Linked DNA regions of Homo sapiens. The protein of the gene in region 2 interacts with the protein of the main gene of each other region in a pairwise test. Each region holds a gene or a part of one and is shown on either strand. Other genes may lie near its edges.

Evidence for each region.
Region 1: the proteins of ONECUT3 (region 2) and SH3RF1 interact in a two-hybrid assay, tested with the Homo sapiens proteins (one large-scale study listed by BioGRID).

The regions. Positions count from the first base shown.
Region 1 is NC_000004.12:169,264,153-169,267,956, forward strand, and holds part of SH3RF1 (E3 ubiquitin-protein ligase SH3RF1), read right to left. Parts: intron 1-3,804. UniProt on the Homo sapiens protein: Has E3 ubiquitin-protein ligase activity. In the absence of an external substrate, it can catalyze self-ubiquitination. Stimulates ubiquitination of potassium channel KCNJ1, enhancing it's dynamin-dependent and clathrin-independent endocytosis.
Region 2 is NC_000019.10:1,751,996-1,756,567, reverse strand, and holds the start of ONECUT3 (one cut domain family member 3), read right to left. Parts: upstream 3,063-4,572; 5' UTR 2,906-3,062; coding exon 1,714-2,905; intron 1-1,713. UniProt on the Homo sapiens protein: Transcriptional activator. Binds the consensus DNA sequence 5'-DHWATTGAYTWWD-3' on a variety of gene promoters such as those of HNF3B and TTR.

The DNA.
Region 1 (3,804 bases), on a different chromosome or scaffold from region 2:
AAAAATGTATTTCCTCACAGTTCTGGAGGCTGGAAGTCCAAGATCAAGGTGTCAGTGGGGTTGGCTTCCTTTGAAGGCAACTCTCCTTGGTTGGTAAGTGGCATCTTCTCCATGTGTCTTCACATGGTCTTCCCTATGTGTCTGCATCCTCATCTCCTCTTCTTATAAGAACACTGGTCTTACTGGATTAGGGCCCATGCATGTGACCTCATTTTACCTTAACCCCCTCTTTAAAGGTCCTATCCCCAAATATGGCCACATTGTGAGGTACTAGGAGTTAGAACTTCAACGTAGCAATGTTGGGGGACATAATTCAGCCCCTAACAGTCAGCAACAGGGAAAGAGGGAGAAAGGAGGTATGACTGTGCTATGGAGAAATGAAAGCAGACACAGCATTTACAGGGGAAAATAAATTTCATGTGTGTTCCCTCATATCTAGAATTCCCTACCTTTCTTTCCCGATCTCTCCATTCTTTGACACAAGCTCCAATCCCGTATCTGTTCTGAAGCCCTGCTAATCGTCTCAGTCCCAATGGTCCCTCTTTCTTATCCCAAATGCAGAGCACTTCCTATCTATCCTACCCATCTGACCCTTCACCCTACGTGGCCCTTGGGGCAGTTCTTGATGCCTTCTACATTATCAAATTTGAGGCCTCATCTTACACCATCCCTGTGGCTTGCCTAGTTCACACTTACCTTCTGTCAGTTCTTCCTAGGAGGCACATCCCTTCCTGTTTAGGTCAGCCCCTTTGAAATATTCTTCGCCTCTGCCCCTTCCCTGCCCAGCCCCCATTCCCTAATTAATATCATTTCACCCTTAAGATCTCAGCTCAGATGCCTCTTCCTCAGGAAGCTTTTGAAGATCACACACACAATTCACCCTCACGCTAAATGCAGGTCTTTCTTCTATCCTCTCCCCTAGCTTTGTGTCTTAGAACTTACTTAATTACATGCCTGCATTGTTATTATTTTCTTAATGTGTCTCTCCCACAAGATGGACTATACATTCAAAACCTAATGTGTCTCTCCCACAAGATGGACTACACATTCAAAAGCTAAGAATGGTTTGTCTACCATTACCTATCCAGCAGCTAGTGTAGTGCCCGGCACCTAATGAGTGCTTAAGAAGTATTTATTAAATAAAGCAACGAATAAACTAAGTATAAATTAGTATAAATCAGGGGGTCTCATGTGATCTATTTTTTGGATGAATAAATTTGCTGTGAAGTAGAGGCATCATGAAATCATTAAGTAATAATATCTAAACAGAAACATGCACAGATATTAAGAGAACTTAATGTTAAGAGATATTAAGAGAACTTAAAAGAATTTTTTTTTGAGATGGAGTTTCGCTCTTTTTGGCCAGACTGGAGTGCAAGGGTGCGATCTCAGCTCACTGTAAACTCTGCCTCCCAGGTTCAAGCGATTCTCCAGCCTTGGCCTCCTGAGTAGCTGGGGTTATAGGCACGTGCCACCACACCCGGCTAATTTTGTATTTTTAGTAAAGACGGGGTTTCACCATGTTGACCATGGTGGTCTGGAACTCTTGACCTCAAGTGATCCACCCACCTCCTCGGCCTCCCAAACTGCTGGGATTATAGGCGTGAGCCACCACACCTGGCCAGCTTAAGAGAATATTAAAGAGAAGTTAATATCTATGCATATTTATGTTTACATATCATTACTTAATGATTCCTTAAATCATTGGAACTGCGCATAAAAAGCAGAAACTATTAGGTCTAAATTCTATAGGAACTACTTAAAAACCATGCTTTCCTTATCTAATTTATATATATGCATTTTAACTTCTGCAGCTACATTTCTTAGGCCATAGACAGGTATCAGCAGTGTCCCTCTCCCTATGGCTCATTCCACTGCTTGACTTTGGCCTAAAACCAACAGGAATTCTTTACTTAGAGGTAAAAAACTGATGGATTCCCATGGTGATTCCAATCCCACACTCTCCTTTTCTCCTTCAAATTAGGCAGGAAACACTAAAATTTTGGGAACAAGATGTGCGTCACACATTGGAAATGTTCAAATCTGTTGATAACATTCAATATACTTTGGCTAAACGCATGAGGAGGCCACATGGTCACAGCCTAACCAAACACAGAACATAACTAATAAACTGAAGCAACATTCCACGTTATCACTTTCAGCTTTGCACAACATATGGAAACAGGCTCACTGCACCACTTGGTTGTGTCAGAACACTTAAGGGAGGAGGATGCACATTTGGGATTTATTACAGTCACTCACCTAAGGGAAGCGTCCAAAGAAGTGCCTTACAATATCCATGTGGCTTCATGTTACAGAATTCTCACTCTTAAAAGGAGTCTTTTCTAGAAATGTATTGACCTTTCAGGTGTTTGAACTATATGTATGGCCCTGACTGTTCTGAATATTTGAAAGCAAAAGGTACTAGTAACTTACTGAGAAAGCTTTTTTTTAAAAAAGGGGGGTGGGGGGCAGGGGATGGGGGAGGGGTAGCAGGGGGAGGGGTCTTGCTATGTTGTCTAGGCTAGACTTGAACTCCTGGGCTCAAGTGATCCTCCGGCCCCAGCCTCTGGAGTAGCTAGGACTGAAGATGCAAGTAGCTAGGGGCTAGAGGCGAGTGCCACAGTACCTGGCTCGAAAAACTATTTTAAACTAGAAAAAAGGCTGTTCTTTTTCTAAGTATTGCATCAATTGCATCAACTCAGACTACTGAATAGGTTTGTTTTTGTCCTCCATCCTCCCCCAGCAAAGTAACAGACATATTTCCTGTTCCATCCACCTCAACTATTTTATCCCAGTTATAAGGCTCAAGTTTAGTTGAGTTTCTTGGCAAGTAATTTTTCTCATGCTAAAGAAGAAACATGAAGTAAATTAGGAAAAGCATATAAACCAGAAAAATAATACTAACATGATCAAAATCTCCAAATAATTTACCTATGAAGTTCAATTTTGGGAGCTTAGCAGTTCAGATAAATGAGAATTACATAGTCAATTTCCATGTTAGCAAGAAAACTTAAAATTCAAAAGACATTAAGTTGAGTGTTTGAGCCTCTCCTTAAATTCCTCTTTATCAGTGAACAAACATTCAATGCATTCCTCACAACAGGTAAGGCAGTGTCAACAACTAAGATACAGTATTCCAGGAAGCCATGCCTTCCCTAGTCTAATTAACAGGGAAACAAAACCTTTCCAAAGATGCAAATCTACACCTTTATTAAGCTAAACAGACCTACATCAGGTGTCTCAGAAATTATCAACTTGATCACTGGTTCTGGGATTAAAATATTCGAGTCCAAATAAGTAAACTCCATAAAATAAAGGAAATCTAAGAAAAGCACTGTAAGCAGATCAGTTTCACAACATGTGGGCTCCAAATAAGGAAAAGAAAACCTCCCTATCCCAGAGTTCTCACTATCTTTAAATAAATAAATATGTCAAAAGAAACCTGACAGCCTTAATGATGAAACTGTTTTCTGATCAGGTTTTCCAGTGATTAAAATGGTCTATATACTTAAATACTTCCTATCATTTACAAAAGATGAGCCTGAGAAAGTAGTAGGAAAACTATTCTGTTAAAACTGCCTGGTATCCACATCTGCGAATTATGGGAACTAATGCTATCCCAATGGGCAGTTCCTGTATTAAATGAAAGACATCACTTTTGAGTGCTTACTGAAGACATTTGAAAAAAATATTCTCATCTAGATTAATTGTTCTTTAAAAGCAGATTTTACCAGTTTGGCCAATAATTTAGAATTCCTTCTTCTTACAAAAATGAAGTTGTTTTAATTACTGATGCTCTTG
Region 2 (4,572 bases):
ACAAGAGTGAAACTCCGTCTCAATAAATAAATAGAGCTGCCAGGGGTGTGCCCTCTGCCACCTGAGGCCTCGCACTGCACCTCGAGGGCCGTGGCTGTGTGCGGATATGACCGCCGGTCTATGGTGAGCGCACGAGTGCCGCTGTATGTGTCATGGGGAGGGGAGCAGGACAGACTGAAATCGTCCAGGTTCCCGGACCTCCCTGAGCACAAGGTTACCCTGCCACACGCGAAAGACTATTTATTTTCCCGTGCCCCAAAGCAGAAAAATCTAAGAATCCCATAAGAGGTTCCAGCTAGTCACCTTGCTTGCTCTGCAGAAGGGGGAAACTGAGGCCGGCCTGTGGGTCCAGGCTCCCAGGGGGTTGTCTGGTCCTCCTGGGGTGGAGGGAGGGAATGGCTTTCTAGGGAGGAACAGCACAGGACACCCCGCTGTCCTCTCTTCGCCCAGCCCCCCTGCCTGGACGGGCTGCCTGGGGGCACAGCCGCAAGCCCCTCTGCCTCTTTGCTAGTGGGGCGCCTCCCAGAGCCCCCGCCTTTCTCGCCCTTGTGCTCGGAGAAGCGATCGATCAGGCGCCAGCCGCCGCGGCTATTGTCCCTGTGGCCCGGGTGGACAGCCCCCTCCCCAGCACCACCAGGGAAAGAAACCCCCACCTAGGCCAGGGGCCCTCCTGCACCCTTACACCCCCACCTAGGAAATGGGGGCCTGGCCGGGCTGCCTGTCAGAGGGCAGGTGTGGACTTAGCTGTTGTCAGCTGGGAGGGAGGAGGGAGGAGGGTCCCCAGGGGGCCGGTGGCTGAGTATGAGACAGAGACAGAGGCGGAGAGACCGACAGGGAGAAGAGATAATGAGCAGGAACAAGAGCAAAACGGAGAGCAAGAGAAAAACATAGAGATACCAGTGTGTTCCGACCGAGAGAGGAGAGAAGTGGACATGAGAGACACAAAACCCCAAAGCCAGGCGGGCAGGGGCGCGCGCACCCGAGCCACGACCAAACTGCGCGGGGCGGGCGCCGGGTCGGGGTGTGAAGGCCTCCGGGCGGCGCGGGCCGAGGGTCCCCGGGGCCGCCCCTCCCCCGCCATTCTCGGGTGACCTTTGCCAGCGGCCGGAGGGGAGAGGGAGGGGGTATCGATCGCGGGGCCGAACTACAAAGAAGCGCGCGCTGGGGCAGGTGGGGGGATGAGCGCGGGCTCGGCCTCTGCTGCTGAGCTGCAGGCGCCCGCCGCAACGTCTCGGAGCTCTGTGGCCCGGGGCTGGGGGCTCAACAGCCCCTCTCCACCCACTCTGGAGGAGGGGAGTGGCACCTTAGCCGACAACAGCAGCTCGTTCGGGGACACAGCTCCCCCCAACAGGCGCGCGCTCACACACACACACGCACACACACAATGAGCTTCCCTGAGGGCTGCTTGGGGAGAGGCTCGGAGCCTCCCAGCAGTCTAACAAGGACTAGAGAACCCCTACGCGCTCCCGAAAGGGGCAGAAGCGGCGACCGGGGGGCGGGGAGGCGGCACAATCCCTTTCTCCCTTTTGGCAACGGTACAAACGGGCAGCGGCGCGGATCGCGGTCTAGCTTCCTGATAGGGGGTCCCGGGCTGCCGGGGCGCACGGGCGGGGCTTGGGGCGCTGGCCCCGGGCATCGGCCGCCGCCCCGCTAGGTGCTCGGGAGTCCAGAGCCGGCGCCCCCAGGGTCTGGCCCTGCGCGCCACGCTCCTACCTGCCAAGCGCAGCGCCGACATGCGCTGGAACTCTGGCTCCTGCAGCCACTTCCACATCCTGCGGAAGGTCTCGCGGCCGGATTTGAGCTTGCTCCACGGCTTGGGGTTGCGCAGCAGGTCGGAGAGCGTGCCCTGAGAGCGACACAGGATCCGCTGCGCGAAGATTGCCTGCGGGATGCTGTAGCGCTTCAGCTCCGCCGTGATGCGCTGCGCCACCTCCTTGGTGTTGATCTCCTCGGCCGCTGCGCCCGCGCTGGGGCCGCCGCCGCTCCCGCCGGGGCCGCCGCCTCCCCCGTGCGGCCCGTGCGCCCCGGCCGCCGCCAGCCCGCCCAGCGGCGCCAGCAGCCCCGCGGCGCTCCCGCTGCCCGCTCCGCCGCTGCCTGTGCCGCCGCCGCCTCCGGGCAGCCCGCGGGCCAGTGCGTCCTCCGCGCGTCCCAGCAGCGCGGCGTGCGGCTCGAAGGCGGCGGGCGGCAGCAGCTTGTCCCCAGCCAGGTGGCCTGGCGGGCCGTAGGCGGCCAGCGGCGGGGGTGGTGGCGGCGGCGGGGGCTGCGGGGCGCCGTGCAGCGCGGGCGGCAGCGCGTTGGGCAGCGGCGACAGCGGCGACCCCATGGCGGGCAGCTCCTTGCCGTAGGGTCCGTAGAGGTGGCCCACGGAGGCGAGCGCCGCCCGCTCGTCGCGCATGAGGGTGAAGCTGCCGCTCACGCTGGCCGCCAGACGCTGCGGCGGGGGTGGCGGGGGCGGCGCGGCCGCCGGGTGCGGGTGCGCGTGGGGATGGCCGCCGTGCGCCCCGGCCACGGCCGCGGCCGCCGCGTGCTGGTGGAACTTGTCGGCCACGGCCGCGAGCGGCGGCAGGTGCTGCAGGGGCGTGAGCGTCGTGTAGGTGCCGCCCAGGCCCGGCGCCTCGCAGGCCATGCCCATTGCCGGGTGCAGCGGGCCCGCCAGTTCCCCGCGGAAGTCCGCGCCGCCGCCCGCGCTGCCCGCGCCGCCCGCGCCCCCGGCGCCCCCACCGCCGCCGCCGCCGCCGCCGTCCAGCAGGCTCGCCATGCCGGCCACCAGGCCCGGGCGCCCGGGCGCCACCAGGCCGCGGTGCTGCGCCGCCGCCGAGCGCGCGTGGCCCGGGCTCAGCAGCTCGCCCGCCTGCGCGTGGGCCACGCTGTGCAGGCCCCCCAGGCTCTCCAGGCTCAGCTCCATGCTCGGCTGCCCTCCCGCCGCGCGCGCTCCTCAGCGCCGGCCCCTAGTGCTCAAGGCCGCTGCATGACTCCCGCCCGCTCCCCGGTGGCTGCGCGCGAGGCTGCCAGGCTGCGCGGCGCACGGCCCGGCCCGGCTGCGAGCGCGGCCACCAGGATGTGGCAGGGGAGCGGCCGCCGGCGCCCGGGCCCGGGTCTGACGTCAGCGCCCCCGCCCACCCGCTCCTGCCACCGCTGCCTCCCGCAGCCTCGCTCTCCGCCCGCCCCGGCCCCACTCGAGCACCAAGCAGGCCGAAGTCGGCCAGACTTGGGGCTTCGGCGTCCCTGGCCACTGCGCCCGCCCGCGCCCGCTGGGGCAGGCCGTACCCGGGGGACAGCGGGCGGGGGTCCGAGGACAGACTCTGCCCAGGTGGGGCTGGGGGCCTCGACCCAGAGTCTCCGATTTCGCGTCTCTGTGTGATTCTCTCCAGAGTCCCAGATGTGGCTTTCTGCCTGGCACCCCCAAGTCCATCTCCAGGGAGTTTCTGGGAGTGTGGCTGGACGGTCGCCTGTAATGTACGTGTCCCCCCCCCCCCCCGTTCCCTACAGACCCCCAGGAGCTAGATCCCCACTGCAAGCTCAGCTTCCCCCGACTCCCACTCACACCTACGGAGTCACAGCCCCCTTCCCACAACCTCTTTGTGGAGGAAGTGGGGGAAAAGGGAGGTCCTAAGGCTAGGTCAGGGCCTCCGTGCGCCCCAGGGGTCAGCCTCTGCCCATGTGTGGGCACCTGGGCCTCCGTTTCCCCAACTGTACAATGGGCTGCCCGGCCTCGGGGTTGCCAAAGGCCCCTTCTAATTGCAGGGCCTTTTTACAGTGCGGCCGCTGGAGGCACTGGAGCCTGGGGGTGACCACTAAGAGCCCCTGTCACCCTCCAGCCCACGGAGGCTGAGGCTGGATCCCCTGTCTTCTGAGACGTCGCTGGTGCAAACTCCTCTTTGTCCCTGGGGCTTCTCTTCAATGTGGGGGGAGGCAGGGGTCTCCTTTTTCTCAGCACCTGGAGACAGGTGAGCCCCAGGGGCCCCTGGGAACTGGGATAGATGGGGGAAGGGCTCCTATAATCAGAGAGACCCCCAGGGGACTAGATCCCGCCAGTGGGGTAAGGTCAGGGCTGCGGATCTGGAGGGGCCAGACCAGAATCTAGAGGATGCTCTGTCTTGTAGGCCAGAGGCTACGGTGCAGAGTCCAAAACCAGCCTCAGCCCCTTCCTGCTTCCCCGTTGCCTCTGCCCCCCCCACCCCCGGGGTAACGCTTGTGCACTTTCTAGAAGAGGAAGGGGATGGGTCAGGCAGTCGGTTCGCGGGAGCCCCCAGTTACCCCCATCTCAGAGGGTTGCATCAGGGCTCAAAGCTGAAGGAAGAGGGGAGGACACAGTCAGGCTGTCACTTCCCCTTTGGTGCAAACCTTCTGGGCAAACCCCGGCCCCAGCTTTGCACCTGCATCCAGATTTCCTGGCCCCTGTAGACGTGGCTACACATTGGAGATGCGATTTTCTGAACCAAGACTAGGTTGGCTCTGGAATAGGGCCCTTTCTGTGCCTCAGTTTCCCCTTCTCTGGTGTGGGAGGGGGTGCCCTCCAGCCTGCCCAGCTGGGAGCCGGAGGTGAGTCTATGCTGACCACAACAGCCAGAG